Linked DNA regions of Homo sapiens. The protein of the gene in region 4 purifies or fractionates together with the protein of the main gene of each other region. This does not show direct contact. Each region holds a gene or a part of one and is shown on either strand. Other genes may lie near its edges. The genes, in order: CHAF1B, IREB2, RNF123 and INSL3.

What was found.
Region 1: the proteins of INSL3 (region 4) and CHAF1B purify together in Homo sapiens (affinity purification with mass spectrometry; 3 studies listed by BioGRID and IntAct, with this or other methods). This does not show direct contact.
Region 2: the proteins of INSL3 (region 4) and IREB2 purify together in Homo sapiens (affinity purification with mass spectrometry; 3 studies listed by BioGRID and IntAct, with this or other methods). This does not show direct contact.
Region 3: the proteins of INSL3 (region 4) and RNF123 purify together in Homo sapiens (affinity purification with mass spectrometry; 3 studies listed by BioGRID and IntAct, with this or other methods). This does not show direct contact.

What each region holds. Positions count from the first base shown.
Region 1 is NC_000021.9:36,409,387-36,416,405, forward strand, and holds part of CHAF1B (chromatin assembly factor 1 subunit B), read left to right. Parts: coding exon 1-79; intron 80-2,076; coding exon 2,077-2,218; intron 2,219-3,497; coding exon 3,498-3,929; intron 3,930-5,908; coding exon 5,909-6,003; intron 6,004-6,888; coding exon 6,889-6,980; 3' UTR 6,981-7,019. UniProt on the Homo sapiens protein: Acts as a component of the histone chaperone complex chromatin assembly factor 1 (CAF-1), which assembles histone octamers onto DNA during replication and repair.
Region 2 is NC_000015.10:78,433,245-78,441,220, reverse strand, and holds the start of IREB2 (iron-responsive element-binding protein 2), read right to left. Parts: upstream 3,006-7,976; 5' UTR 2,884-3,005; coding exon 2,865-2,883; intron 2,801-2,864; exon of another isoform or gene 2,365-2,800; intron 1,427-2,364; coding exon 1,340-1,426; intron 1-1,339. UniProt on the Homo sapiens protein: RNA-binding protein that binds to iron-responsive elements (IRES), which are stem-loop structures found in the 5'-UTR of ferritin, and delta aminolevulinic acid synthase mRNAs, and in the 3'-UTR of transferrin receptor mRNA.
Region 3 is NC_000003.12:49,685,439-49,692,560, reverse strand, and holds the start of RNF123 (E3 ubiquitin-protein ligase RNF123), read right to left. Parts: upstream 3,005-7,122; 5' UTR 2,955-3,004; intron 1,432-2,954; 5' UTR 1,396-1,431; coding exon 1,314-1,395; intron 1,137-1,313; coding exon 1,052-1,136; intron 1-1,051. Other genes in the region: MST1 (hepatocyte growth factor-like protein isoform 2 precursor), read left to right, coding at 3,870-3,963, 4,664-4,811, 4,893-5,005, 5,083-5,197, 5,276-5,412, 5,494-5,610, 5,759-5,877, 6,080-6,248 and 4 more. UniProt on the Homo sapiens protein: Catalytic subunit of the KPC complex that acts as E3 ubiquitin-protein ligase. Promotes the ubiquitination and proteasome-mediated degradation of CDKN1B which is the cyclin-dependent kinase inhibitor at the G0-G1 transition of the cell cycle.
Region 4 is NC_000019.10:17,818,513-17,825,981, forward strand, and holds the start of INSL3 (insulin-like 3 isoform 2 precursor), read right to left. Parts: upstream 3,008-7,469; 5' UTR 2,995-3,007; coding exon 2,805-2,994; intron 1,979-2,804; coding exon of another isoform or gene 1,884-1,978; intron 1-1,883. UniProt on the Homo sapiens protein: Seems to play a role in testicular function. May be a trophic hormone with a role in testicular descent in fetal life. Is a ligand for LGR8 receptor.

The DNA.
Region 1 (7,019 bases), on a different chromosome or scaffold from region 4:
CTTCCATGTCCTGGAAAAGCCACTCTTGCTGTTCGCTGCTGTCCGGTCTACTTTGAACTGAGGCCAGTGGTGGAAACAGGTATCCTCAGAGCCTCAGGGGTGTGTTATGTTTTCTCTCCGAAACAGGTCACCAGAGTGGGGTGGAGATTTGGATTCTGTCTTATGGGGAAAGGTGGGTATCTGGGTTTGGTTCAGTTCAGTTATTTTAAAAATATTTTATTTTTACATTTAAATCTATTTATTTATTTATTTTGAGACCAGGTTATCAGCCTGGTTAATTTTTGTATTTTTGGTAGCGACAGCGTTTCACCATGTTGCCAAGGCTGGTCTTGAACTCCTGGACTCAAGTGATCCACCTGCCTCGGCCTCCCAAAATGCTGGGATTACAGGTGTGAGCCCCTGTGCCCGGCCTGGTTTAGTTATTTTTAAAAGCTGGAGCAAAGACTGGGGTTATCAAAATACATGTCAGTTTTTTTTTTTTTTTCTTTCTTCAGGATATATTTTCTTGCTTAAGGCACTTTAAAAGGAATGGACGTACTCCTTTTGTTTGTCTATGTCTCTCATTATCAATTTTCTTTTTCTTTTTTTTTTTTTTGAGATGGGGTCTTGCTCTGTCGCCCAGGCTGGAGTGCAGTGGTGCAATCTTGGCTCACTGCAAACCCTGCCTCCCAGGTTCAAGGGATTCTCCCTCCTATCCTCCAGAGTAGCTGGGATTACAGGCGCATGCCACCACACCCAGCTAATTTTTGTATTTTTAGTAGAGATGGGATTTTGCCATGTTGGCCAGGCTGGTCTCGAACTCCTGACCTCAGGTGATCCACCCACCTTGGCCTCCCAAAGTACTGGGATTATAGGCGTGAGCCATCATGCCCAGCCATTTTCTTTGTTTTCTTGTGCTTGGGGTTCATTGAACTTCGTAGATCTATCCGTTTATAGTTTTTATTACATTTGGGAAGTTTCAGCCATTTTTCCTTCAAATGTTATTTCTGTTATTCCCTTCTCTTATTCAAATACTCCCATTACACATGTATTATATTAGGTCCTTTGAAATTAGTTCCTGGCCTTTGATACTACTTACTTTTTTTGTTTTTTTCTTCTTCCAGTGTTTGATTTTGGAAGTCTCTATAGCTGTGTTTTGAGTTTGCTAACCCTTTCTTCTGCATGCTCTGCCCTTGGTCCCATCCAGTGTGTTTTTCTTTGTTGTGGTTCTCATCTCTAGAGATTCACTTTGGGTTTTCCTTATATATTCTGTGCCTCTCCATGCTCCATTTTTCCTCTTGCTGCTTTCTTTTTTTTTTTTTTCTTGCTCTGTTGCCCAGGCTGGGGTGCAGTGGTATAATCTCGGCTCGTTGCAGCCTTCGTCTCCCAGGTTCAAGTGAATCTCCCACCTCAGCCTCCCAAGTAGCCAGGATTACAGGTGTGCGCCACCACACCCAGCTACTTTTTTTATTTTTAGTAGAGGCAGGGTTTTGCCATGTTGGCCAGTCTGGTTTCGAACTCCTGACCTCAGGTGATCTGCCCGCCTCAGTTTCCTCTTGCTTCTTAAGCATATAGAGTGCAGTTATAATAGCTCTTTTAATGTCCTTGTATACAGGTTGGTTTTGATTTTTTTCTCCTCATTGTGGGTCATATCTTCCTGTTTTTGTTTGCCTGGTACTTTTTGATTAGATACTAGACACTGACTTTTACTTTAGTGGATGCTGGATGTATTTTTATTCTTATAAATATTCTTTTTTTTTTTTTTTGTGACAGAGTCTTCCTCTGCCACTAAGGCTGGAGTACAGTGGTGCAATCTGAGCTCACTGCAACCTCCGCCTCCTGGGTTCAAGCGATTCTCCTGTCTCAGCCTCCTGAGTAGTTGGTACTACAGGCACACACCCCCACGCCTGGCTAATTTTTGTATTTTTGATAGAGACGGGGTTTTGCCATGTTGCTTAGGCAGGTCTCAAACTCCTGAGCTCAAGTGATCCACCCGGCTCGGCCTCCCAAAGTGCTGGGATTCTAGGCGTGAGCCATTGCACCTGGTCAGAAGCCTTGTTTCTGTGGTTTTACTTTGTCTCTGTCCCCAACCCCCAGGTGTGGAGCTGATGAGTCTGCCCTACCGCCTGGTGTTTGCTGTGGCCTCGGAGGATTCCGTGCTTCTGTATGACACCCAGCAGTCCTTCCCTTTTGGTTACGTGTCTAATATACATTACCACACCCTCAGTGACATTTCATGGTGAGTGGCTGCTAATGAGGGAGAGTGAGTGAAGGAGACCGTGGCTGTATCCTGGAAGACACCCCGGGGTTAGGGAGCATTTCATTACTAAAGATGGCTTTGGGGGACATATTCACCAATTTTGTTTCTTATTTATTTTTTTGAGACCAAGTATCACTCTGTCACCCGGGCTGGAGTGCAGTGGTGTGATCTCGTTTCACTGCAACCTCCACCTCCCAGGTTCAAGTGATTTTCATGCCTCAGCTTCCCAAGTAGCTGGGATTACAGGTGCGCACCACTACGCCTGGCTAATTCTTGTGGTTTTAGTAGAGATGGGGTTTCGCCCTGTTGGCCAGGCTGGTATCAAACTCCTGGGCTCAACGATCCTCCTGCCCCAGCCTCCCAAAGTGCTGGGATTACAGGCGTGAGCCACCACGCCCGGCCCCAATTTTGTTTTTTAAAGGAATCAACATTAAAAGGAAAGCCGTTTCTAGTTTGCCACAATACTTGCTTCTTATTTTCACACTGGTGGGTTTTGATGGCATTCAGATTGCCTTGTGGGGTTAACTGGACTTTGATAAACTGAGGGGAGGCCTTGTAGACTCCCTGGCCATTTGGGGACTTCTGAGGCCCTCTGGGAGGAAGCCCTTCCCTGCATGCCCCTGCTGCCCAGGACAGGGAAGTGCCCCAAGCTGGGCCTGTGTAGAGGATGTCACTCAGCACTGTCCTTCTGCCACCTTTTGGTCCCCAATTCAGCCCCCGTGGCCTGCTTGGCCCAGTGTGAGGTTTTTTTTTTGAAACAGAGTCTCACTGTCATCCAGGCTGGAGTGCAGTGGAACGATCGTGGCTCACTACAACCTCCGCCTCCTGGGTTCAAGCAATTCTCCTGCCTCAGCCTCCCGAATAGCTGGGATTACAGGCGCCCACCACCATGGCTGGCTAATTTTTTTGTATTTGTAGTAGAGACAGGGTTTCACCATGTTGGCCAGGCTGGTCTTGAACTCCTGACCTCAAATGATACACCTGCCTTGGCCTCCCAAAGTGCTGGGATTACAGGCGTGAGCCACCGCACCCGGCCTATTCAAGTGAAAATTGCTAGTAGCACAGATAGGTTGCAGCGACTTAGCAAATCGCGATGAAACTGCATGAGTGAGTCGCTATCACACACTCTTTTCCAGTTGTATCTTTTCCCTGGTTTTTGCCTTCAAACAAGCTTGTGATTTTGCTCGAACTTCCCTCTTCTAAGTAGATGTGAGAGTGTTGGTAAGGTCTGTAACTTTTCCCTGTTTTGGGGACGAAGGTCCAGCGATGGTGCCTTCCTGGCCATTTCTTCCACGGACGGTTACTGCTCATTTGTGACATTTGAGAAAGATGAACTTGGAATTCCTTTGAAAGAGAAGCCAGTTTTGAACATGAGAACTCCTGATACAGCAAAGAAAACCAAGAGTCAGACACATCGAGGGTCTTCGCCAGGACCCAGACCGGTAGAGGGAACCCCTGCCAGCAGAACCCAAGACCCCAGCAGCCCCGGCACGACTCCCCCTCAGGCCAGACAGGCCCCAGCCCCAACAGTCATCAGGGACCCTCCCTCCATCACTCCTGCTGTCAAAAGCCCCTTGCCGGGGCCTTCGGAGGAGAAGACCCTGCAGCCCAGTAGTCAAAACACAAAAGCCCACCCATCCCGGAGGGTCACTCTGAACACACTGCAAGCCTGGAGCAAGACAACACCCCGGTAAGAACTTGTTGGAACAAGATGTCATTGCAAAATGAAACACAAAATGCAGACAGAACGCTCCCACCCTGCTGCAGGTGAAATTTCAGGCGGTGAATGCTTCATGCCAGTAGGTTGCCAGAGAGATTCTTAACTTCAAATCCGAGAGTGTCATTTCTTGCATATAGGCCTCTGTTTGTTCCTCCAGTTTCTGCCTGTCAGATAAAGCCCAGGCTCCTATGCACACACACAGACTGTGATTTGGCTGCAGCCTGTCATCCAGGACTGTGGCCACTCTCTCTCCTGAGTCTGTGGCCTTCATCTCCGGCCTAGTCCTGAATGTCATCTTCCCAGAGCACTCTCTGCCCTTTGAGGCCTCTGTCCTTCCCTTCTCTGGGGAAGCCCTGGACACCTCTTCCTCTTGGTGATGCCAGGAGTCTCCTGAAAGACCCATTTCAATGTACCCTCTCTGTTTGCAGTCTTTGTGGCCCTTCAGCCTTTCCCTTGTCACCACACATCAGATTCCATAGCAGGTGCTTTGATGCTCCAGTTCCCCTGCTGGTTGTGAGCCCCCAAGGACAGGAAGCAGGTCCCATTTTTTATTTATGCTGTTCTGCCCAGGATGTAGGCAATTCCAGGAGTGTCTTCCTGAGACTGCGTTTGATGTCTCCAGCAGCCTGGTCGGTGAGAAACGGAGGTCCTGATCTGATAACAAATAATCCCCAGGAGGTGCAGAGTCGTTTCTTCCCTGCTTACATCAGTGTGGCTGGCACGCACGCCTGTGTCTGCCACTTCTACTGGATACAGAGCCACTTAGCACATCCTTCTGCCGTCAGGCAGCACAGCCTCCTGTTTCCATTCTTCCCCTGCAGCTGATGTCCAGTTACCCCTCTGATCCTGTATAGTTCCTTCTCCACCAAGCCCTCTGCCTCCCAACCTTCCCATAAACTGAGTCACGAGGAGAGCTGGGAAGGGGGATGCAGAGGGGAGTGGTGGGGATGGTGAGCTGGACAGAAGCGCCCTGTGCCTCTCAGCCTCTCCTGCGCCAATAGGTCTTCTTTGGCAAGTTCATAATATGTGTATGGGTTGCTGGCTTTAACGCCCTCTTAAAATCTCTCATTTCTTTCTGCAGATTAGCAATGTATTTTACAATTTTTCTGTTTGTTTTTATGTGACGGAAGGTATTCCTTGAACTATTTTTGGTATTAAATTATTTTTCCCCTCTTGATTTCTTCTGAATTATTTACCAAGCTTCTTGAAGATGTAATCTTTTGCAAACAAGAATAGTTGTTGAAAATTAAGACTCTGGGTTTTTATTTATTTATTTATTCATTTGAGACAGGGTCTTGCTCTGTTGCCCGGGCTGGAGTGCGATGGCATGCTCTCTGCTCACTGCAACCTCCGCCTTCTGGGTTCAAGTGATTCTCCTACCTCAGCCTCTCAGGTAGCTGGGATTACAGGCATGCGCCACCATGCCTGGCTGACTTTTTGCATTTTTAGTAGAGACGAGGTTTTGCCATGTTGGTCAAGCTGGTCGAAAACTCCTGACCTCAAGTGATCTGCCCGCCTCAGCCCGCCAAAGTGCTGGGATTACAGGTGCGAACCATCTTGCCCGGCCCAACGCTCTGGATTTTAAAAAAGTATTACCTGTGTTTCGACGCTTTCTATATATAGAAACCATATCTGACTGCCTTTTACAGCAGCCAGCAGAGTGTTCACAAGACCGTCGGTAATGAACAGAACACAGGTTTTGAAACTTTTCGATGACTGGTTATGGTTTAAGTTGACTGTTATAAATGTGATGGTTTAACTTAATACATGAATGTAATCCTCAGTTATTAAACAAGTGGGCACATCTTACTATTTAATGCCTTGAACCAGAAGTTCAGCTGAAAATTTAAGTATTTCCTTTGGTAGTTTTGAAGGTTGGTATCATACATAAACAATTCCTGTGATACTAATGAGCCATCACCCCTCTACTTTTTTTTTTTTAAATCAAGGAGAATAAACTTAACACCCTTAAAGACGGACACTCCACCAAGTTCTGTACCAACCAGTGTGATTTCCACCCCTTCTACAGAAGAAATTCAGTCAGGTAAGTAATATTGTTACTGGTTTAATATAATGAAAGGTAGAGTATCTTTTCTTTTGTTCTTTTGGAAATTAATGCCGCCTAATTTTAAGTCAGTTCTGAGACAGCAGGGATGCATCTTATTGGAACCATTGTTTAAACCCGCCGGCTGCCTGTTTACGCCTCAGCAGGGGGCACCTGGCCAGTGAGAGCATCCTGGTGAGCCAGGGAGTGGGTTCAGCAGGAGATTGTCTAGCTCAGGTTTCTCCACCTGATGACTGCTGACCTTGTGGGCCAGGCAATTCTTTGTTGTGGAGGACTGTCCTGTGTATTATGCGATGTTTAACAGCATCCCCGGCTGCTACTTCTTGCCCATGACATTCTTTTTTTTTTTTTCTTTTTTTTGAGATGCAGTCTTGCTCTGTCGCCCAGGCTGGAATGCAGTGGCACGATTTCGGCTCACTGCAGCCTCCACCTCCCACGTTCAAGCAATTCTCCTGCCTCGGCCTCCCGAGTAGCCGGGACTACAGGCGTGCGCCATCACACCCGGGTAATTTTTGTATTTTTAGTAGAGTCGGGGGTTTCACCACGTTGGCCAGGCTGGTCTTGAACTCCTGGCCTCAAATGATCCACCCGCCTCAGCCTCCCAAAGTGCTGCGATTACAGGCGTGAGCCACCGCGCCCAGCTTGCCCATGACATTCAAAAATGCCACTAGACATTGCCCACTGTCCCTTGAGAGGCAAAATCGCCCCTGGTTGAGAGCCACTCTATAGAACTTCCATTATATCAGTATAGGATCTTGCCAGGCAGCTCAGTTCCGTGTCTTGGCTCTGTATTCTGTAAATGTCAGCCCTTGACTTCCAGAATTCTTCATTTACTTGCCAACCTTATGTTTGTTAATGTTGCAGAGACGCCTGGAGACGCTCAGGGCAGTCCCCCAGAGCTAAAGCGGCCCAGACTCGATGAAAACAAAGGAGGCACGGAAAGTCTGGACCCTTGATGGGACCTCGGCTTCTGCTCGAAGCCTACCAGGCTCCCG
Region 2 (7,976 bases), on a different chromosome or scaffold from region 4:
TAATTCTAAAATGGGGATTCTTTAAGATACTCCAAAATAGCTGTATTTCACAATACACAAAAAATATTGCACATAGCAGTCAAGAATATTTAAATTCCTCAAAATCTACAGAAAAATCACAAGAACAATCGTCTTAATTAAATAATGCAAGAAAAAACAAGATTAAAGCTCCTTCCAAAACTGACTGCAACAGATGTGGCATTCAATTTATCTTTTCATGTCATTGTCATGGAAAAGTTCACAAAGAATAATGAGTCTTCTAAAGAGGTCTCTCTATTGGCCCAATTGAGAAAGTTACTCAACTGTTAGTAAAGTCAAAACTTCCATTCAATGCCCTATAGGTCGCCCACATTCACTCTTCTGAGACCACAGAGAAAGGTTTGACCCTGATAAGGTCAATGAGAATGTCTGCCAAAACTGCAGGTGTGTAGGTTGGGGCAAACCATGCCCAATACTTCAGAAAAATTCAAATCAATGGGTCCTGTTGGTGATTCCTATTCAACAGATGGCAAAAAGAATAGATGTGGGCACTGTTCATTTGACAAAGTAAAACAGGCCAGGCATAGTGGCTCAGGCCTGCAATCCCAATACTTTGTGAGGCTGAGGCAGATGCATCACTTAAGGTCAGGAGTCTGAGACTAGTCTGGGCAACACAGCAAGACCCCAACTCTACAAAAAATATAAAAATATGTTTTTATATAAATGTGTTGGCATACACCTGTAGGCCTTGTTACTTGGGAGGCAGAGGCAGGACTGCTTTAGCCCAGGAGTTCAAGGCTGTATGAGCTATGATCACAACACTGTGCTCTAGCCTGGGCAACAGAGCAAGACTCTGTCTCAAAAAAAAAAAGAAAAGAAAAGAGAAAATAAAATATACATTTAATTGGTGTAGAATTATCATCAGTCAGTCAGGTTCTTCTAAAAATCACATTAGGCCAGGCGCAGTAGCTTACATGTGTAATCCCAAAACTTGGGGAGGCAGAGGTGGGAGGATTATTTGGGCCCAGGGGTTCAAAACTAGCCTGGGTAACATAGCAAGACCCCTGTCTTCACAAAAACAAGAAAAAAAAAAGTTTGAAAACTGCATTATTGGTTTCTTTGAGGGGAAAAACTAGTGCTTAATTAACTTAGATTTTTAAATGAGAAGTTAAGGTGTGGGCCTACATCTTCCCTGAACAGAAGTTGTCCCAGGAGGAGTTTTTAAAATGGTATAGGTATGTGTAGGTGTACCTGTTACAATACGGTGGAAATACATTTAAAATTTCTTCAGCTCAGCTTGACAAATGCATTTTCATTATTAGAGACTAAACAAACCCAAGAAAATGTAAAGCAACATTACCATACTTGGTGCCAAGTTTAGATACATCGAAGAACTTCTTATGTGAACTGTCATTTAATGTTTCAATAAGGTACTCAAAGGCGTATCCTGAAAAAAAAATTGTATTTTCATTAAATGCAGCAACAAAATATTTTATTCAGCTGAAAATACCTGGAAACTAGCTTTATCCAATAGAATTTTCTGCAATGGTAAAAATATTCTATGTTTGAGCTGTCCAGTAAAGTAGCCATTAGCAACGTGTGGCTATTGAGCACCTGAAATGTGGCTATCGTGCCTGAGGAACTGAATTTTTAATTTATTTAATTTTGATTAATTTAAAGTCACACAGGGCTAGTATCCACCACACTGGAAAGCATAGTTCTAAACCATAATTTGTCAAGTAAAAACTAGTAAGATAATTCACTCCTGAAATGTGATAAGAATACCTGGAAAGGGACAATAAGAATGATTTAAATAATCCACGGGGACGTTTTGGAAAGACATGTCTTGAAAACTGCAGAGACAGGAATTTGTGAATTCCACAATTAACATTAGAGGGACTGATTAAAAAAAAAAACTAAAAGACGGATTTTTACAGAGCATTCAATAAACCAAAACAAAAAAACTTCTCAGTTAAGTCCTTACCAGGGCTTAGTACTGAAAATAAAAGTAACAGAATCTCTAGGAAATTAGCATATTCTACCCGAAAGAGACAAGTCTTCTGGTTTTGCACGAACTGAAGCTGAACTACTAAGTCAAAGATCCAGAGGTCTCATTTAAACGTGCCTCAGCTCCCAACATTCTAGGGGGCAGTGGCGGGGAGGCAGCCCTGAGGTTGAAAAGAACCTTCAGATCTTTTGTGCAGACTCATAGCGGTGGGTGGCCAGGACCCTCAACATTGTTAAGGCTTTCATCCAAAAGGAGAAAACATAAGCACAGCCCATTTTCAGAATGAATAGTATTTTTTTCTCTTTTTTTTTTTTTGTAGAGGGAGGTGGACGGGGGAGGAGACAGCGGTGCAATAAATGGTCGGAGAACTGACTGACCAATGTTCAACCTTGACTGCCCCTCATTCGGCTTCCAGAGGCACAGAGAGACTGAGGGGCCTTAGGCTGGACCGTGGAATCAACATCTAGCTGCGTGAGACCCGAACACGGAGACGCAGGCCCCCGCCTTCATCGCTCGCCAATGGGGGGCGGGCAGGAGAAGACGGTGGGCCTCTCCCTGCCCCTGGTGTTGCTGACGGGGGCCAGGAAGCCGCTGGCAGCAGGCAGCGGCCACCGGAGAGAGAGGGGTGCGGGTCAAGGCCAGCGGTGGGGTGGCCCGCCCTGCGGGTGTCGCGCAGGAGGGTGGGGATCGGGAGCCCCAGCTTCCGCGGCCTAGGCTCAAAGGGCGGCCCAGCAGGCAGGCCCCGAGGGGAGCACAACCCGAGCCCCGAGGGCCTGGGCGCCTGCCGAGCGACTCCAGGCGAGAAAAGCAAGGAATTCGGCGCCTAGGCAGCGCGCGTTTCCAACTGCCAGACCCAGCTCGGAGGCCCGAAACTGACCTGCTTTTGGGGCGTCCATCGCCGGAGACCATATTATCCCTCCGGGGAGGGGGCCAGCGGGGGAAGAAGGGGGAGGCCGGGCAGGGAAGACGGGGAGGAAGACAGGCGGACTGGCAAGGGAGGAAAGAAGGAAGCAGGCTCGCGCAAATATCGCGAGAGCAGCAGAGCCAGCCCCGGGTCTGCGCTCGCGGGATTTGTCGCCTAACTCCCGCGAGATCGTCGGACAGGAAAACAAAGAAAGGGAAGGGGCGGAGCTAACCAGAAAGCGATTTCTCGCGCCGTCGCCGCTGTTCTCGCGAGCGGGGGCGGAGCGCTGGGGAGGCTCCAGTGGGGGCGTTGGCGTGGCTAGTTTGGCCTTCGCAGCGATCCGTTACTTAGTTGCGGCCTTAAGTTTTCTATTGGGGTCATGAATTCGAGCGGTGTTTGCGTTCCCGCAAGGTGTCTGTTGGAGTCAGGGTCGGAATCGGAACTGCTAGGAGAAAGAGCTCAAGGAGAACCGCTTTCCCCTAACTATAAAGCCTTGCATTAACTTGTCAGACGTGGGCGGCCCACACGCGTGTTTTCAAGTGGGGGCGGCCATACTGATCGGGCGCGTGGGAGGCGCTCAACTGTTGAATGAATGAATTTTTTCTTACCCTCCGGTAGCTTCCGTGATTGCCGACTTCTTCCCAGTGGCAGTTAACACATGCTTAAGCCTCTCCATCCTTCCGCCTCAGCTCCTCCGGTCCCTGTGTTCTCCACCTACCCAGCATTATCTCCTGTCGCAGCAACTTACCAGAAAGAGTCGCTCATACTCGGCTCTCCCCCACCCACTTCTTATCCTCTTCCAGTCTGGCTTCCACTCCCAGAAATGCCTTTAGCCAAGGCCAGCTATAACTCCACTTTCTAATCTCACATATCTCAATCTTGACTGGTTCTCTCCCATTGTTGAAAAATACTCTTCCATCAGCTTCTGTGACTTCAGACTCTACTTTTGTTTCTTCTCCTAAGGGTGCTTGATCTCAGGCTCCTCTGCAGACCTCTTCCTCCGCCCAGCTTTTAAATGTACTGGGCACTTGATGGGCACAGTAGCTCATGCCTGTAATTCCAGCACTTTAGGAGGCCAAAGTGGGAGGATGGCTTGAGCTGAAAAGTTCAAGACCAAACACAGCAACGTAGTGAGACCCTATCTCTACAAAAAAAATTTAAAAATTAGCTGAGTGTGGTGGCATGCACCTGTAGTCTCAGCTACTCAGGAGGCTGAGGTGGGAGGATCACTTGGGCCCAGGAGATTGAGGCTGTGGTGAGCCATGATTGCACCACTGCACTCCAGCCTGAGCAACACAGCAAGACCCTGTCTCAAAAAAAAATATATTGGACATTAAATGTGTCCCAGGGCTCTGGCCTTGTACCTCCTCCCTCTGTCCATTTTCCCTGGCCCATCTCACACTTCCTTTGACTTCAGTTATTAGTTAATATGTTGATGCTTCCCAGTCTGCCTGTGACCTGAGCCTATCTCCTAAACCCGGAGGTGTATATCCTAGTACCCATGGGATGCCTCCACATCCCAAGGCACCTCAAACTAAAAATCTCCAAAACTGAACTCGTCATTTCCCTCCTTAAACCTACTATTCCTTTTGTATTGCCTGTATTAGCGAATGGCGCCACCATCCACCTGGTTGCCCAAGCCAGAAATCAACACATTATACCTGACTCCTTCATCCACTCCCTTTAATCATTGATCCAAGCCCTGTCAACCCAAACTCCAATATATTTCCTTTATTCACCTTGCTATATTTTGTAACATCTCCTTTACAATCCCAGCATGAAATTCATAGGTAATATAATCTACATACACGATAAATAATCTACTTAATGACCTAACTGTAATATAAAGGAGAAAAATAGGAAAGTAATTTATTAGAAAATAATATGTATTATAATACGTAGCTGCACAGGCATGTCTATATTAGATGACAAAATTGAGTAGTCAGATGCTTGTATCTATTTATAACGAATGAGTTTGGTTTTACAGGACATATAATATTCGACTGGGCCAGGCACAGTTGGTAGCTCAAGCTTGTAATCCCAGCACTTTGGGAAGCCAAAGCTGCAGGATCGCTTGATGCTAGGAGTTTGAGACTAGCCTGGGCAACATGGTGAGACCCTGTCTCTACAAAAACTTAAAGAGTTAGCCAGACATAGTGGTGCATGCCTGTAGTACCAGCTACCGTGAGACAGAGGCAGGAGGATCACTTGAGCCCAGAAATTCAAGATTACAGTGAGCTATGATTGTGCCACTGCACTCCAACCTGGGAGACAGAATGAAACCCTGTCTCAAAAAAAGATAAGGCCGGGGCGGTGGCTCACGCCTGTAATCCCAGCACTTCGGGAGGCTGAGGCGGGCGGATCACGAGGTCAGGAGATGGGAGATCATCCTGGCTAACACGGTGAAACCCCGTCTCTACTAAAAGTACAAAAAATTACCCGGGCGTGGTGGCAGGCGCCTGTAGCCCCAGCTACTCGGGAGGCTGAGGCAGGAGAATGGCGTGAACCCAGGAGGCGGAGCTTGCAGTGAGCCGAGATTTCACCACTGAACTCCAGCCTGGGCAACAATGCAAGACTTCGTCTCAAAAAAAAAAAGATAATATTCAGCTGAATATGGTCAACACTTTTTATGTCTGACATTGCAAAATAAGGATTCAATATATACATACATATCATGCATAAATATATATTATGAATGCATATATGGTAAATGCACATATGTATAAAATGTACATATATATCATGAATGGCCTCTAAAGACTAATGAAAATATGTTAGTGACTTAAATATTGGAAGTGTTGTCACTATTGTGATTTTCTGAAATGGTGAATAACTCTTGATAAAGTTCAAAACAAAAAAAAAAAACCTTTGCTTTTTTTATGCAATAGTTGTATTCCTAGAAAATTCCGTATATATTAAAACCATACACAAATTACTTTTGTTTTTACTTGTATATGGGGTTAAACTCTAGGCTCAGATAATTATAAACAAATTTGTTGTTACTGTTTTTATGTTTGTGTGTATGTTTAATGTACTTGAATATCTGACAGTATGGGTCTTGTTTGATTCTTTTTTTTTTTGAGACGGAGTCTTGCTCTGTAGCCCAGGCTGGAGTGCAGTGACATGATCTTGGCTCACTGCAACCTCCGCCCCTCGGGTCCCGGTTCAAGCAATTCTCCTGCCTCAGCCTCCTGAGTAGCTGGGAATACAGGCACGTGCCATCATGCCCAGCTAAGTTTTATATTTTTAGTAGAGACAGGGTTTTACCATGTTGGCCAGGCTGGTCTTGAACTCCTGACCTCGTGATCCGCCCATCTCAGCTTCCCAAAGTGCTGGGATTACAGGCGTGAGCCACCGGGCCTGGCCCTTGTTTGATTCTTTGTTGTGTAATTCTATAGTGTGGAATGCAGGCAATCTAACATTCATTGAATCCCAAAAGTGCCCCATGATGGTGACAAACAAAAACACCCATTTTCTCAGTGTCCCGCTTCCACTGAGAAGCACTAACTTAGAACAATCATGATATGCTCCCGTGTGGCTGGACTCATTACTTTTTTTTTTTTTTTAACAGTTTTATTTACTTTTTGAAAATTTTATTTATTTTAAGACAGAGGTCTGTTTATTTGGCCTGGACCGATCTCAAACTCCTGAGTTCAAGGGATTCTCCCACCTCAGCCTCCCAAGTAGCTGGGACTACAGGCATATGCCATCTCAGTCAGCTTTAACAGTTTTATTGAGATTTAGTTTAAATATCATAAAATTTACCTATTGTTAAACATTCTTATTTTGTGACAATTGTAGATTTACATGTAGTTGTACTAAGTAATAAAGATCCCGTATACTCTTCACCTAGTCTTTCTCCATGTAGCATAGTACAATATAAAAACGAGCAAATTGACATTCATACAATCATTCCACCTTACTCAGATTTAGGCAGTTCTACATGTACTCCTTTGTAGGGTGTGTGTGTGTGTGTGTGTGTGTGCGCGCACATGCACGTGTGTATTTAGTTCACGTGTGTGGCTTTGTGTGGCCATCACTACAGTCAAGATATGGAACATTTCCAAGGATCCTTCCTGTTGCCGTTTTATAACCGCAGCTGTTTTCCTCCTAGGCTGCCATTTCCTCATCCCCTACACCCTATTTTGAATGCTATGCAAATGGAAGCTTATGGTATGTTTTCACTATACATTTTTTTTCAAGTTACATTTCCAGTGAGATTTTAGCACCCTTTTAGATCAGTGTCTCGGGCAATGTCCAGGCTGGTTCACCTCTCCTTTTTTTTTTTTGAGAGAGAGTCTCACTGTGTTGCCCAGGTTGGAGTGCAGTGGGGTGATCTCGACTCACTGCAACCTCCATCTCCTGGGCTCAAGTAATTCTCCCACCTCAGCCCCTGAGTTCCTGGGACCACAGGCGCACGCCACCATGCCCAGCTAATTTTGGTATTTTTTGTAGAGACAGGGTTTTCCTATGTTCCTTAGGCTGGTCTCGACTTCTGTACTCAAGCTGTCTGCCCACCTTGGCCTCCCAAAGTGCTGGGATTACAGGTATGAGCCACTGCACCTGGCCCATCTCTACTTTTTAAATTAAACATTTTATTTCGAAAAACAAAATTCAAGAATACAGAAGAATTGCAAGATAATTATAATAAAACTTCATATATACCTTAATTAGGTTTATTTATTTACTGTTAACATTTTGCCACATTTGCCTTGTCTCTCTCTCCCTCTCTGCTATTTCAGAGATAAGATCCTCATTATTTCTTATTCTTTTTCTTTTTTTGAGACACAGTCTCACTGTGTTGCCTGGTCTGGAGTGCAGTAGGTATTCACAGCAAGATCATAGTGCACTGTAGCCTCCAACTCCTGGATTCAATCAATCCTCCTACCTCAGCCTCCCAAGTAGCTGGGGCTACAGATGTGTGCCACTGCACCTGGCTATTTCTTATTCTCATTTTTTTGGTACCATTTCAGAGTAAATTTTAGAGATTATGACCCTTCAGTCCTGAGTACTTTATCATGTATCTACTAAAAATGATCAAATTCAGGAAATGTAATTGATACAACACAATCAATTGTATCAATA
Region 3 (7,122 bases), on a different chromosome or scaffold from region 4:
GGTAGCAGAACAGAGTGACTATAGTAAATAATAATTGTACATTTAAAAATAACTAAAAGAGTATAACTAGATTGTTTATAAGACAAAAGATAAATGCTTGAGGGGATGGATACCCCATTTACCATGATGTGATTATTACGCATTGCATGCCTGTATCAAAGTATCTCATGTACCCTATAAATATATATACCTACTACATACCCACAAAAATTAAAAATTAAAAATGTAACACAAAGAAAGAAACAGAAAAGAATCACATTTGAATAGTCATGTTAAAATAACAAGATAGCAGGTGCTTTTCCTTCTTTTTTTAGAGACAGGGTCTTGCTCTGTCACCCAGGCTACAGTGCAGTGGCATGCAGAGGCCAACTCACTGCAGCCTCAACCTCCTAGGCTCAAGTGATCCTCCCACATCAGCCTCCCTAACAGCTGGGACTACAGGTGCACACCACCATGCCCAGGTAATTTCTGTATTTTATTGTAGAGATGGGGTCTTGCCATGTTGCTCAGGCTGGTCTTGAACTCCTGGACTCAAGCAATCTACCCACCTTGGCCTCCCAAAGTGCTGGGATTACAGGTGTGAACCACTGTGCCTGGCCCTCTAAGTTTCTGCTAAAATGTACTTGTAACTTTTATACTGACTACACTTAAAAGTATTAAACTTGTAAAGAAAAGGCCCTGGAGGAGTTTGTTCTTTACAAGGTCAGTCAGAAGCTACAAGGGGCCAGGCTGGGGCCAAGGTGAGGGCAGGTACATGCAGGGGCAGATGCTGGGTATGGAGTAGGTGCCAGGTGCTAGCTGGGCATGAATGTGCACCCGCTCCCTGACCTCTGCTCCCTGACTCTCAGAAGGAACTAGCACTGCCTGGAGACAGGAAGAAGCAGAGTACGGAAGGCAGACTCTCTGGCCAGAGATCTCGCAGCCAGGAGCACAGTGAGAACAGAGCCTAAGCCTATCTGTCCAGAGCCCAGGCTCCCTTTCCCTACAACTGCAGCCTCCTTATTCTGGTCTGGCCCAGCAGAGTGAGGAGGGGCCACCCACCCAGCCATACCTGCTGGTGGCTGCTGGGGGTGCATGTTCAGAAGAGGAAAAGATGCGGTTCAGGTAGTCATTCAGCAGCTTCTCCTGCACAATGCCTGAGCCACAAGTCAGAAGGGAGAAAAGGGCCACATGATCAGTGCAGCTCCTGGCCCCTGCTGGCCCCAGAGACTTCTGGTCCTAGGCCAGCCACAGGTGCAGCAAGGCCTGAGGCCTTTGTCCCTTCCTTCTCCTCCCAACAAGAGGAGCCTCCTTCCTTCCCTGCCAGCTCTTACCTGTGACCCTGGATTTCTCAGCATCTGAGGTCAGCCTATAGCTCTTGCGGGAGAAAGACATGCCGGCCCCCTTGGATGCCATCCTTCATCTCTCATGGGCAGCCAGTGGTCCTGGGGGCTGAGCCAGACACAGAGCCTGTCTACTCAGGGCCAGCCAGGGGCCCCCACACCTGACCTCAGTCCTGCCATGGCAGGAAGGCTTGGGAGCAGGTGAGGCCAGGGGCATGCACACTAACACATAGGGCAGGGGAATGCAGGGGCTCCCAGCTTCCTACACAGGGAGGGTAGCCAGGGTCTAGGCCCATGTAACAGGGACCACTTCTTGTTCTCCAGTGTCCCTGTGCCCAGCACAGGGCTGGGCAGAGAGCAGGTACTAGATATATTTTTGCCGAACCATAACAAAATGTCTCAGCTCTGTGGAAATCAGACCAAAATGTCCAAAGTGAGGTGTCCTAGGGGCAGAGCCCCTGTATCCATCTCAGTTGTAAGCCATACTGAGTCCAGCTCACAACCAGAAGCGACAATCCTACACATTCCCCCAAGTGCAGACCACCACTGGTCTGGTCATCTCTAGCCATAAGTCCCACTTACTCCCCACAAGGCTGGAGCCTCTTTCCTCAGCCCTGGGTTCCTCCCTTCTTTTATCCATGGTCCTGATAGTTTCACCATTCCCACTCACACATGTGGCCTCCCACCTCATCCAAGCACCACCCTTGCCCAGCCCTCATGGCAAACTCCATTGGTCCTCCTAGTGCATCTATCCCTCACATCATGTTGCTGCTGCAGCTGCTCCAGAACCTGCACTGAGTCCCTGGTGCTGGCCTCACTGATGTGTAGCGGTGCTGTCCAACACAGCAGCCGTCATCCACATGAGGTTACTTAAATTTAAAGTTTTAAAAATTAACAATTCGATTTCTCAGTTGCCTTAGCCACATTTCAAGAGTTCAATGACCACATGTGGCTAATGGTTACTCTGTTGGACAGCACAAAGGTAGAACGTTCCCACCATCATATAAAGTTCTATTAGACAGCGCAGGTCTAGAGTTTCGCTCTGCAGCACTGCCTTAGCCAGCACTCCCTACTCTGCAGTTCAGTCTCTTATCTCACCCCAAACAGACCCTCTACTCCCGCCACAAACCCTTGTGGGTCTGCACCACGCCTGCTCCTCGGGAAGGTGATTTTCCCGACCTCGGGCCCTCGGTGGGCGTCCATGATCGGTGCCCCTTCACTACCAGAGTAGTTGAAGATCTGATTAAACTCAGTCATTCATTTGATGAGCAGACCTTCCAGACACCCGGAGTGGGCTCCGGGAGTCAGTTGCTGAGGACCCAGGTGAGAGGCGGACCTTGTCCCCGCCCGGGGACTCCCTGTCACGGCTATCCCGTCCAACCCCGCCGGGGTATCCGGACTCAGAACTGAACCTACTCCGTCTGGGAGCCCAAGGACGGCGAGGGCGGCGCATGGCTCCCCCAAGTCGCCCCCGCCTGGCCCCAAGCTCCACAGGACCTGCCAGACCAGCTTCCGCTCGGAGTTTCGCACCCAGATCCCTGCGCTGCAGGTGCCCTCGCACTGGACTAGCCCGGACCGCGAAGGGAATAGCCGGAACCCGCCAGGCTCAGAGCCCTGCCGCCCCTCACTCACCCGGAGCCTCGGCCGCAGCGACCCGGCTCACAACATCCGCCCAACCTCTTGGCTACGGCGTCCGTTCAGGGCCAAATCACGCGCACGCTTGCGCGCTGAGCCTCCAGCCGCGCACGCGCACTGGCCCGCGCCCAGCCTCCGCTAGGGGACCCCCTCCATGGCTTCCCACCGGGTTGTTCCAGGCCTCAGCTTCGCCGAAAGGCCTCACCACCTCCGACCTCCGCCTGCTCTGGGGATGCTCCCAGCCCTGCTGCGGCAGAACGCGACATGCTAACCGGAATCCCTAGGCCGCCTGTCTCCTACCCATACTTAGAGGCCCCGCTCAGACGGTCCTTAAAACGTCTGAAAGGCCGTTCCTGCCAGAGTCCCTGCTACCTGTTACCTCCACCCCTATTTAGTCCTAGTGGACAGCCTCGCTCACCTTCCCTGGGATGACACTTCTGGCGGCTGAGATGAGCGAGCCTCTCTGGGCTCTGCCGCCGGGTGTGGGCTGACCTGCCTACAGCTGGGGCCTGATAAGGCAGCAGCAAAAGGGTGGAGGGGAGGCAGTGTTGAAGCTGGGGCAAGTAATTTTCCCCAATTTACAGGGAAAAACCGAAATTCAGAAAAGTTTAATGTCACCCAGGGGCTGGAGCCCAGACCTCTGGCAGCTCTCACTTTCACAATGCCCTTGGGCTGACTAGGCTGCAGAGGGGTTTCACCCCAACCCCAGGGCACCTCAAGTGTCCCCACCAAACCTTCCTAACACCTGTCCACTAAGCTGTACTAGGCCCTTGCAACTGACCTATGGGACCTGAGGCCTGGCCCCTCATGGCTCCTGTCACCAGGTCTCAGGTCAGGGTCCAGCAGGCCCTGAGCTGACGTGTGGAGCCAGAGCCACCCAATCCCGTAGGGACAGGTTTCACAACTTCCCGGATGGGGCTGTGGTGGGTCACAGTGCAGCCTCCAGCCAGAAGGATGGGGTGGCTCCCACTCCTGCTGCTTCTGACTCAATGCTTAGGGGTCCCTGGTAAGTGCCCCCAACCCTGATCCCCATCTGCCTTCAGGAGGGGGTTGGCCCCATTCTCCTATTCTAGGATGAGAAAAAAGTCGGGGAGCCAGAGGCTCAGTGGGCATGGGGCAGTGACCTTGCCCTCTTGAGCACAGCTGGGAAGCCCTAGGAACACATAGACATTGCCCACTTAGGCCTCTATTAGCACGTCTGCTCTAGCACTGAAGCAGTGTCAGGACCACACAGATGCACGCACACAGCAGGCAGTGACCCCTCCTGAGCCTGATCTACCCCTCTAACCTAGCATATGCCTTTGTGCAGGTGAGAGCCCAGATTTGGAGTCTGAATGCCTAGCCAGGGCCCCTGGCTGGGTAATGTGATGGCTCTGAGCCTTAGCATTCTCATTTGAGAGATGAGGTGGGGCAAGCTTCATCACCCACTGCTCTCACAGAGCGTATGTGTTAGATCTGAGCCCGGTGCCTGGGCCACTAAACAGAGGCACCGGTGATAACTACCAAGTCTGGGCCTGCTTCCCAGGGGAAATTTTTTTCACAAGTATCTGTGCAGGGGGCTAGACTGGCCCTTGAAAGTGCATACAGGGTCCATCCCAGAAGCCTTGTAGCTTTGATCCCCTGAATGAACAAAGTGTGGACATGCCAATACACATTACTGACATGTATGCCCACCTGACCTGCACCCACTCATGCCTACTCTGCAGGGCAGCGCTCGCCATTGAATGACTTCCAAGTGCTCCGGGGCACAGAGCTACAGCACCTGCTACATGCGGTGGTGCCCGGGCCTTGGCAGGAGGATGTGGCAGATGCTGAAGAGTGTGCTGGTCGCTGTGGGCCCTTAATGGACTGCCGGTGAGTGGCCACTGGGCCTAGATAAGACTGGGGGCAGGGAAGCCTGGGCTGTGGCGTTACCCTGTGCCTTCTTCTCTCCAGGGCCTTCCACTACAACGTGAGCAGCCATGGTTGCCAACTGCTGCCATGGACTCAACACTCGCCCCACACGAGGCTGCGGCGTTCTGGGCGCTGTGACCTCTTCCAGAAGAAAGGCAAGTGGGGGTGGAGAGGGGCAGGGTGGGAGACAGGGGACCTCAGCCCAAGTTGATCTTCTGTCTCTTGCTCCCAGACTACGTACGGACCTGCATCATGAACAATGGGGTTGGGTACCGGGGCACCATGGCCACGACCGTGGGTGGCCTGCCCTGCCAGGCTTGGAGCCACAAGTTCCCAAATGATCACAAGTGAGACAAACACCTTCCCTCCGTCCCGGCCTGGGGCCTTCCCCCAGCACACACTATAGTGATGCTCTGGGCCCTCAGGTACACGCCCACTCTCCGGAATGGCCTGGAAGAGAACTTCTGCCGTAACCCTGATGGCGACCCCGGAGGTCCTTGGTGCTACACAACAGACCCTGCTGTGCGCTTCCAGAGCTGCGGCATCAAATCCTGCCGGGAGGGTAAGCGGCGCCGGGTCAAGCTGGGAGAGTGGAGGGACAAGCCCACGTCCATCCACGAACCCACTGGCTCTTTGTCTCCAGCCGCGTGTGTCTGGTGCAATGGCGAGGAATACCGCGGCGCGGTAGACCGCACGGAGTCAGGGCGCGAGTGCCAGCGCTGGGATCTTCAGCACCCGCACCAGCACCCCTTCGAGCCGGGCAAGTACGCGTAGGCGGTATCGGCGTCCTGGGGGCCGGGCTAGGGAAGGTCCAGGACTCCAGGGGCAGGGCTCCGTGTAGGGCAATTGGGCGGGGCCAGATAAGCCAGAGTCCCAGGGTCTTGTTCACGCCCCATTACCGCCCCCAGGTTCCTCGACCAAGGTCTGGACGACAACTATTGCCGGAATCCTGACGGCTCCGAGCGGCCATGGTGCTACACTACGGATCCGCAGATCGAGCGAGAGTTCTGTGACCTCCCCCGCTGCGGTAGGCGGCGGGGACCAGGCCTGGGAGGGTACCTGGGAACCTTGGGGAGGGGCGTGGCTTGGCCGGGGAGGTAAGAGGGGCTGGGCGTGACCTGAGAGCATACCCCGTGGAGTACCGTACACCTGGGAAAGGCGGGTTTGGTCCCAGCCCCAGAGGGATCTCAGCTCTCGCTCGGGGCCCGACCTATCTCGGTCCATCTAAGGGTCCGAGGCACAGCCCCGCCAAGAGGCCACAACTGTCAGCTGCTTCCGCGGGAAGGGTGAGGGCTACCGGGGCACAGCCAATACCACCACTGCGGGCGTACCTTGCCAGCGTTGGGACGCGCAAATCCCGCATCAGCACCGATTTACGCCAGAAAAATACGCGTGCAAGTGAGGTGGGGGGGGGGGGCGGGCGTTGGGACGTGCTGCTGCGGGTGAGACGGGAGGAAGGTAGTCACGGGCTCAAGGCTGGAGGCTGGCGGGCTAGGGCTGAGTGGAGCGCCTGCTTAGAGACCTTCGGGAGAACTTCTGCCGGAACCCCGACGGCTCAGAGGCGCCCTGGTGCTTCACACTGCGGCCCGGCATGCGCGCGGCCTTTTGCTACCAGATCCGGCGTTGTACAGACGACGTGCGGCCCCAGGGTGAGGCCCAAGCTTGGGGGCTACAGAGCCGGGCTGGAAGCCTGGAACCGGAGGGCCGGGGCGAGGTCTCGGCCTGATGGCTGCCCGCACCCGCCACAGACTGCTACCACGGCGCAGGGGAGCAGTACCGCGGCACGGTCAGCAAGACCCGCAAGGGTGTCCAGTGCCAGCGCTGGTCCGCTGAGACGCCGCACAAGCCGCAGTGAGTCCCTGGTGCTCCCGGCCCCGCCAGGGCCCTAACCCTGGGGCGGCATGCTTTGGTGTCTGGGACCAGAGCCTGGAAATGGTTGAGACTACCCTGCCACGATTTTGCTCCCGCTTCCGCCTAGGTTCACGTTTACCTCCGAACCGCATGCACAACTGGAGGAGAACTTCTGCCGGAACCCAGATGGGGATAGCCATGGGCCCTGGTGCTACACGATGGACCCAAGGACCCCATTCGACTACTGTGCCCTGCGACGCTGCGGTGAGCACTAGTGACGCTTCCCCCATGACCCTGCCTCAGCCCCCACCCAAAGGCTGGCTCCCTTAACCCCAGTGAACTTTGTCTTTCAGCTGATGACCAGCCGCCATCAATCCTGGACCCCCCAGGTTAGGAGTTGGGCCAGTTATGGGTCAGGCCC
Region 4 (7,469 bases):
GGCTGAGGTGGGAGGATCGCTTGAGCCTGGGAAGGCAAGGCTGCAGTGACCCGAGATCGTGCCACTGCACTCCAGCCTGAGTGACAGAGCAAGACTGTCTCAAAAGAAAAAAAAAAGGACTTATGAAAATTTAGAGGGTTGTTTACCCTCTACCCAATCTGCAGTTTACAATTGACACCAGTGGTTCTCAAACCAGGGTGATTTTGTTTCCAGGGGATACTTGTCTGGGGACAGTTTTAGATGTCACAACTTGGATGGGGTGTGAGGCTATTCATGGCATTAGGGGGCAGAAGACAGAGATGTTATCTAACACCCTACAATATACAGGACAGCCCCACTACCATATACATCCCCAAATGTCAGCATCAGCTTTTTTTTTTTGAGATGGAGTCTCGCTCTGTTGCCAAGCTGGAGTGCAGTGGCGTGATCTTGGCTCACTGCAACCTCCACCTCCCGGGTTCAAGTGATTCTCCTGCCTCAGCCTCCTGAGTAGCTGAGACTACAGGTGTGCGCCACAACGCCCGGCTAATTTTTGTATTTTTAGTAGAGACGAGGTTTCGCCACGTTGGCCAGGCTGGTCTCACCAGCCTGAGAGTAGCTAGTCACAGCTACTCAGGAGGCTGAGGTGGGCAGATTGCTTGAGTCTGGGAGGCAGAGGTTGCAATGAGCCGAGATCACGCCACTGCACTCCAGCCTGGGTGATAGAGTGAGACCCTGTCTCAAAATATATATATATAATAATAATAATATTAATATTTTTCCCTTTTTTGAGACAAGGGTCTCTGTCTCAGGCTGAGTCTCATATTGCCCAGGTTGGTCTCAAACTCCTGGCCTCAAGTGATCTTCCCTCCTAGCCTCCTGAGTAGCAGGGATTACAGGCATGAGCCACCACATCCAGCAAGGTAAGTATTTTAATGCAATACTTTTAAAATAAAATTTAAAATATTTGTAAAAAGGCCAGGCACAGCGGCTCACGCTTGTAATCCCAACACTTTGGGAGGCTGAGGCGGGCAGATCACCTGAGGTCAGGAGTTCAAGACCAGCCTGGCCCGGGCACAGTGGCTCATGCCTGTAATCCCAGCCCTTTGGGAGGCCGAGGCAGGTGGATCACGAGATCAGGAGATTGAGACCATCCTTGCTAACATGGTGAAACCCCATCTCTACTAAAAATACAAAAAATTTAGCTGGGCTTGGTGGCAGGCGCCTGCAGTCCCAGCTACTCAGGAGGCTGAGGCAGGAGAATGGCGTGAAGCCGGGAGACGGAGCTTGCAGTGAGCCGAGATCACACCACTGCACTCCAGCCTGGGGGACAGAGCGAGACTCAATGTCAAAACAAAACAAAACAAAACAAAACAAGACCAGACTGGCCAACATGGTGAAACCTGTTGTTTCACCTGTTCACCTGTCTCTACTAAAAATACAAAAAAAAAAAAAAATCAGCTGTGCATGGTAGTGGGTGACCTGGGGAGTGGCCTGTAATCCCAGCTACTTGGAAGGCTGAGGCAGGAGAATTGCTTGAACTCAGGAGGCGGAGGTTGCAGTGAGCTGAGATCGTGCCACTGCACTTCAGCCCGGGTGACAGAGCGAGACTCCATCTCAAACAAACAAACAAAATACAAAAATTAGCCAGGTGTGGTGGTGCGTGCCCGCAGTCCCAGCTACTCTGGAGGCTGAGGCAGGAAAATTGCTGGAACCCGGGAGGCAGAGGTTGCAGTGAGACGAGATCACGTCACAGCACTCTGGTTTGGGTGACAGAGCGAGGCTATGTCTCAAAATAAATAAATAAAAATAAAATAATAAAATAAAGTAACATAATTGTGAAAAGCAATACTTTTCAAAAGCAATACTTTTAAATACTTTTAAAGCTGGACACAGTGACTCACATCGCTAATCCCAACACTTTGGAAGGTCAAGGTGGGAGGATTACTTGAGCTCAGGAGTTTGAGACCAGCCTGGGAAACAGAGTGAGACTCCCTCTCTACGAAAAAGAAAAAAAAATTAGCTGGGTGTGGTGGCAGCACCTGTATCCCAGCCACTCCAGAGGCTGAGGCAGGAGGATGGTTTGAGCCCAGGAGGTTGAGCCTGCAGTGAGCCGAGATCTCACCACTGCACTCCAGCCTGGGCGTCAGAGTGAGACCCTGTCTCAAAAAACAAACAAACAAAGCAAAATTAAGGCAAAAATTCATGAAGATCAAAATATTGAAATTTTAAGACAGGATCTCACCATGTACTTGCAAGAGCCTACCTCTCCTGCCTCACTCTGTTTCTGGCCCCTCAGGGGGACTCATGCTCTGAGGACTTTCTTTTTTTTTTTTTTTTGAGACGGAGTTTCACTCTGTCGCCCAGGCTGGAGTGCAATGGCATGATATCGGCCCACTGCAACCTCTGCCTTCCGGGTTCAAGCGATTCTCCTGCCTTGGCCTCCCAAGTAGCTGGGATTACAGATGTGCATCATTATCCCCGGCTAATTTTTTTAAAAATTATTTTTAGTAGAGATGGGGTTTCACCATTTTGGCCAGGCTGGTCTCGAACTCCTGACCTCTGGGGATCCACCCGCCTCAGCCTCCCAAAGTGCTGGGATTGCAGGCGTGAGCCACCACGCCTGGCTAACGGCTCTGGGGACTTTCACACGCGCGTTCACACACACTCCAGTGCGGACCCACGATCTGTGCACGCAGCCGGCAGGTGAGCCCTGGGCACATGCATGCAAACCTGCCCACCTCCCTGCACGTGTGCATCTGCGCCTACGTGCACCTGCCCCACCTCGGCTTCCCAGAGCGCTGTCCCTGCCCGTCCCCACTCACGGTCGCCTCCGGTCGCAGGCCTCCTGGCTTCGGTGGACCAGCGGGGGCCCCCGCACACGCGCACTAGCGCGCGTACGAAGTGGTGGCCGCACAACTTCTCACGCATCTCTGGGGTGGGCGCGGGGCCCAACGCGAACACCAGGGCAGGGCCCAGCAGCACCAGCGCCCAGGCGGGCAGACGGGGGTCCATGGTGGTGGGTGGCGCCGGGGCCAAGCGGGGACCCCCTTTATAGGCGCCTGGGCCGTCCCAGCTGGGGGCCTTGGAGAAGGGACAGAACATTCTTCAGGACCGCCCAGGAAAAAGGTCAAGGGTGGGGTTAGTGCCAGAGCCTTTCTCCCAGGGCCAGGGCCTTGGATGTACTTCTCCCAGAGGGAGCACTGGGCAACGAGTCTTTCTTTTTTATTTTTTTCTTCTTTTTTTTTGAGATGGAGTCTCACTCTGTCACCCAGGTTGGAGTGCAGTGACTTGATCTCGGCTCACTGCAACTTCTGACACCCGGGTTCAAGCGATTCTCCTGCCTCAGCCTCCTGAGTAGCTGGGATTACAGGTGCGCACCACTATGCCTGGCTAATTTTTTTTTTTTTATTTTTTATTTTTAGTAGAGACTGGGGTTCGCCATGTTGGCCAGGCTGGTCTCCAACTCCTGACCTCAAGCGATCCATCTGCCTCGGCCTCCCAAAATGCTGGGATTACAGGCATGAGCTGTGCCTGGACTATTATTATTTTTATTATTATTATTGAGACAAAGTCTTGCTCTGTCTTCCAGGCTGGAGTGCAGTGATGCGATCTCGGCTCACTGCAACCTCCACCTCCTGGGTTCAAGTGATTCTCCCACCTCAGCCTCCCAAGTAGCTGGGATTACAGGTGTAAGCCACCACGCCCAGCCACCTATTTTTATTTTTTATTTTTGAGATGAGTTCTTGCTCTGTTACCCTGGCTGGAGTGCAGTGGCACGATATGGGCTCACTGCCACCTCCCTATCCCTGACTCAAGCAATTCTCCCACCTCAGCCTCCTGAGTAGCTGGGACTACAGGCCCACGCCACCACACCCGGCTAATTTTTTGTATTTTTTTTGTAGAGATGGGGTTTTGCCATGTTGCCCAGGCTGGTCTCAAACTCCTGGACTCAAGTCATCTTCCCGCCTCAGCCTCCCAAAGTCCTGGGATCACAGGCGAGAGCGACCACACCAGGGTATTTATTCATTTTTGACATAGGATCTCTCTGGGTTGGCCTGTAATGGCAGGATCATAGCTCACTGTAACCTCATTCCCCTGGGCTCAAGCGATCCTTCAGCCTCTGCCTCCTGAGTAGCTGGGACTACAGGCCTGCAATACAATGCCCAGCTAATTTTTAATTTTTTAATTTTTATTTTTATCTTTTTAGACAGAGTCTTACTCTGTCACCCAGGCTGGAGTACAGTGGTGCGATCTCGACTCACTGCAACCTTTGCTTCCTGGGTTCAAGCGATTCTCCTGCCTCAGCCTCCTGAGTAGCTGGGATTACAGGTGCCCACCACCAAGCCTGGCTAATTTTTGTATTTTTTAGCAGAGACGGGGTTTCACCATGTTGGCCAGGCTGATCTCAAACTCCTGACCTCAAGTGATCCACCCGCCTCGGCCTCCCAAAGTGCTGGGATTACAGGCGTGCACCAACGCGCCCGGCCATTTTTAATTTTTTAATTGTAGAGGCAGGGGTCTTGCTATGTTGCCCAGGCTCATCTAGAACTCAAGTGGTTCTCCCTACTCGGCCTTCCAAAATGCTGGGATTACAGGTGTGAGGCACCACACACGGCCAAGTCTTCGCTATTGTCTTAACCAGTTTAAAGAGATGAAATAGATCAACTGAAAAGTAATAATCCTGCCTTTTCTGGGGGGCAGGGGGGAAGACAGCGGGCATCTTCCAAGACCAGAAATGTTCAGAATTTTGTTGTTTCTATTACTGTACAAATGAGAAAACTGAGGCACACAGGCCAGGTGCAGTGGCTCATGCCTGTAATGCAAGCACTTTGGGAAGATGGGGCAGGTGGATCACTTGAGGTCAAGAGTTCGAGACCAGCCTGCCCAATATGGTGAAACTCTGTCTCTACTAAAAATACAAAAATTAGCCAGATGTGGTGGTGCATGCCTATAATCCCAGCTACTCGGGAGGCTGAGGCAGGAGAATCACTTGAACCCAGGAGGTGGAGATTGCAGTGAGCCGAGATGGTGCCGCTGCACACCAGCCTGGGGACAGAGACTCCGTCCCCTCACCAGACAAAAAGAAAGAAAAGAAAAGAAAAAAAGAAAACTGAGGCACAGAGAAAGGACCCCAAACTTGCCCAAGGTCACAGGAGGCTGAGCAGAGCCCAGGTCTTCTCAAGGCGCCTGACACGCAGGGCTGGGGGTGTCCCATCCGAAGCTCTGTCTCCCCAACACGGTTGTCCCCTCTGGGTGAGCAGGGGCTGGTGGACCCAGAATAGAGCAGGATTTATTTGTTCAGTGGATGCTTGGCCCCCGCTTCATGCCTAGGGGGTCTTATAGCTTTGTTTTTCCAAGGAGGGAATCTGAGGTTGAGAGAGGGAAGGATGCTTGACCCTAGGCAGGAGAGAACCTGGGCTGGAACTCGAGTCTTGCTTGACCCCAGAGCAGCTCCCTCCCTATTTCTACCAAATTAGGGGGCCCTCTGGGGCTAAGAGAGCAGGGACAGGGATCTCTCTCTCTCTCTCTCTCTGAGTCTCTCTCGGCCTTCATCTCTCAGTTTCCTTCTGTATGTCTGTCTCTGTCCGCATTTTTCTTTTTTTTGAAACGGAGTCGCTCTGTCGCCCAGGCTGGAGTGCAATGGCATGATCTCAGCTCACTGCAACCTCCACATCCCAGTTTCAAGCAATTCTTCTGTCTCAGCCTCCTGAGTAGCTGGGATTACAGGCATGTGCCAGAACACCAGGCTAATTTTTGTATTTTTAATAGAGACGGTTTCGCCATGTTGGCCAGGCTGATCTCATACTCCTGACCTCAAGTGATCCTCCTGCCTTGGCCTCTTAAAGTGCTGGGATTACAGACGTGAGCCACTGAGCCTGGCCACTCTCCACATCTTTCTAGCAGTTATGAGGTGCACATGACGGGGGCCGGTCGGTGGGGAGGTGGTCCGGCCCCAGTGATGCTGGTCCCCTCCCCACAGCCTCGCTCCCCCAACCTGGCCTTGTCCTCTGACCACCGGGAGAGCATCCTGTTCCTTCCCCACCCACAGAGAGCCTGTAATCAGCTCCCCCAGGCTGCAGCCAAGGCCAGCAGCTGGGGCTGGGAGTGAGGGGGCTCTGTCCTTGAGGGCCCCAGCCAAGCCCCACCCAGTGGTCCTCCTCCACCAGCCTGCCCTGGGGCCCCCACAGTGGCTCCCTGAGAGGTCTCTGGCCCACAGCTCTAACCGCATCCCTCCCAGCTCACACACCCTCTGAGGCTCCCCATCGCCCCAAGTCCAGCACAAAATCTTTTCCACTGAATTCCTTTATTCAGTCAACAAACATTTCCAGAGCCCCCTCTGTACTGAGGCCTCAGCCCAGCCCCCAAGGAACCCTGAGGTCAGGGGAGACAGCTGGACACAGACACTTCCCCAGCCCCAGGGCCAGAGTGGGGCTGGAGGGAAGGACAGGGCTACAGTAGTAGTGGGGGTATATGAGGGAAGGCTGCAAGGATGTGGTAGCTGGAGTTTTGAGAGATGGATAAGAGTTTTCCAAGGAGGCAAAAGTGGCAGAAAAGCTTTGCAGGTGAGGAGGAGCAGCAGAAGCTTAACCTGCATGAGAATCCCTCTCACCAGTCAGAAAGTTGACCCTGCACAGCCAAGGGGTAAGCTCTGACCATTTTGCAGGGGACAGAACTGAGACCCAGAGAGGGAAAGGAACTTGCCCACTGTCACACTGCATGGAAGGGGCAAAACTGTAGGCTCCAATACTTGGGCTCTTAACCTCCTTACTCTGAGCCTTCTCACGCTTGGCATGCTGTTCCCTCTGCCAGGAATGCCTTTCCTTCCCTTGATTGCGTGAAAAGTTCCTGCCAGGTTTGGTGTCATCCCTTTGTGCCCCTTGTAGGGTGAGGACAGAAAGGGTCCCATTGGACAGGTGGGAAAACTGAAGCCCTAGGACACTCAGATACCATTAGGGTGGACTGGGACCCCAGCCTTTCCTGCCCCCTTTCAGGATCCCAAAGAGATACACGGGCTCCCCTAAAAGGCAGAGTCCCAGCCACAGCAACTGCTCTTGTCCTTGGCTTCCTCCAGAGAAACAGAGATCGGGGAGCAGAAGTCAGATCATACATTTAAAGCTACATGAGGGCCGGGCGCAGTGGCTCATGCCTGTAATCCCAGCACTTTGGGAGGCCGAGACGGGCAGATCACGAGGTCAGGAGATGGAAACCATCCTGGCTAACAAGGTGAAACCCCGTCTCTACTAAAAATACAAAAAATTAGCCGGGTGTGGTGGCGGGCGCCTGTAGTCCCAGCTACTTGGGAGGCTGAGGCGAGAGAATGGTGTGAACCCAGGAGGCGGAGCTTGCAGTGAGCCTAGATTGCGCCACTGTACTCCAGCCTGGGCGACAGAGCGAGACTCCGTCTCAAAAAAAAAAAAAAAAAAAAAGCTACATGAATGTCCCCATTGGAAATAAGACAGGAAACTCAAAACTAGGTGCTGTAGTCC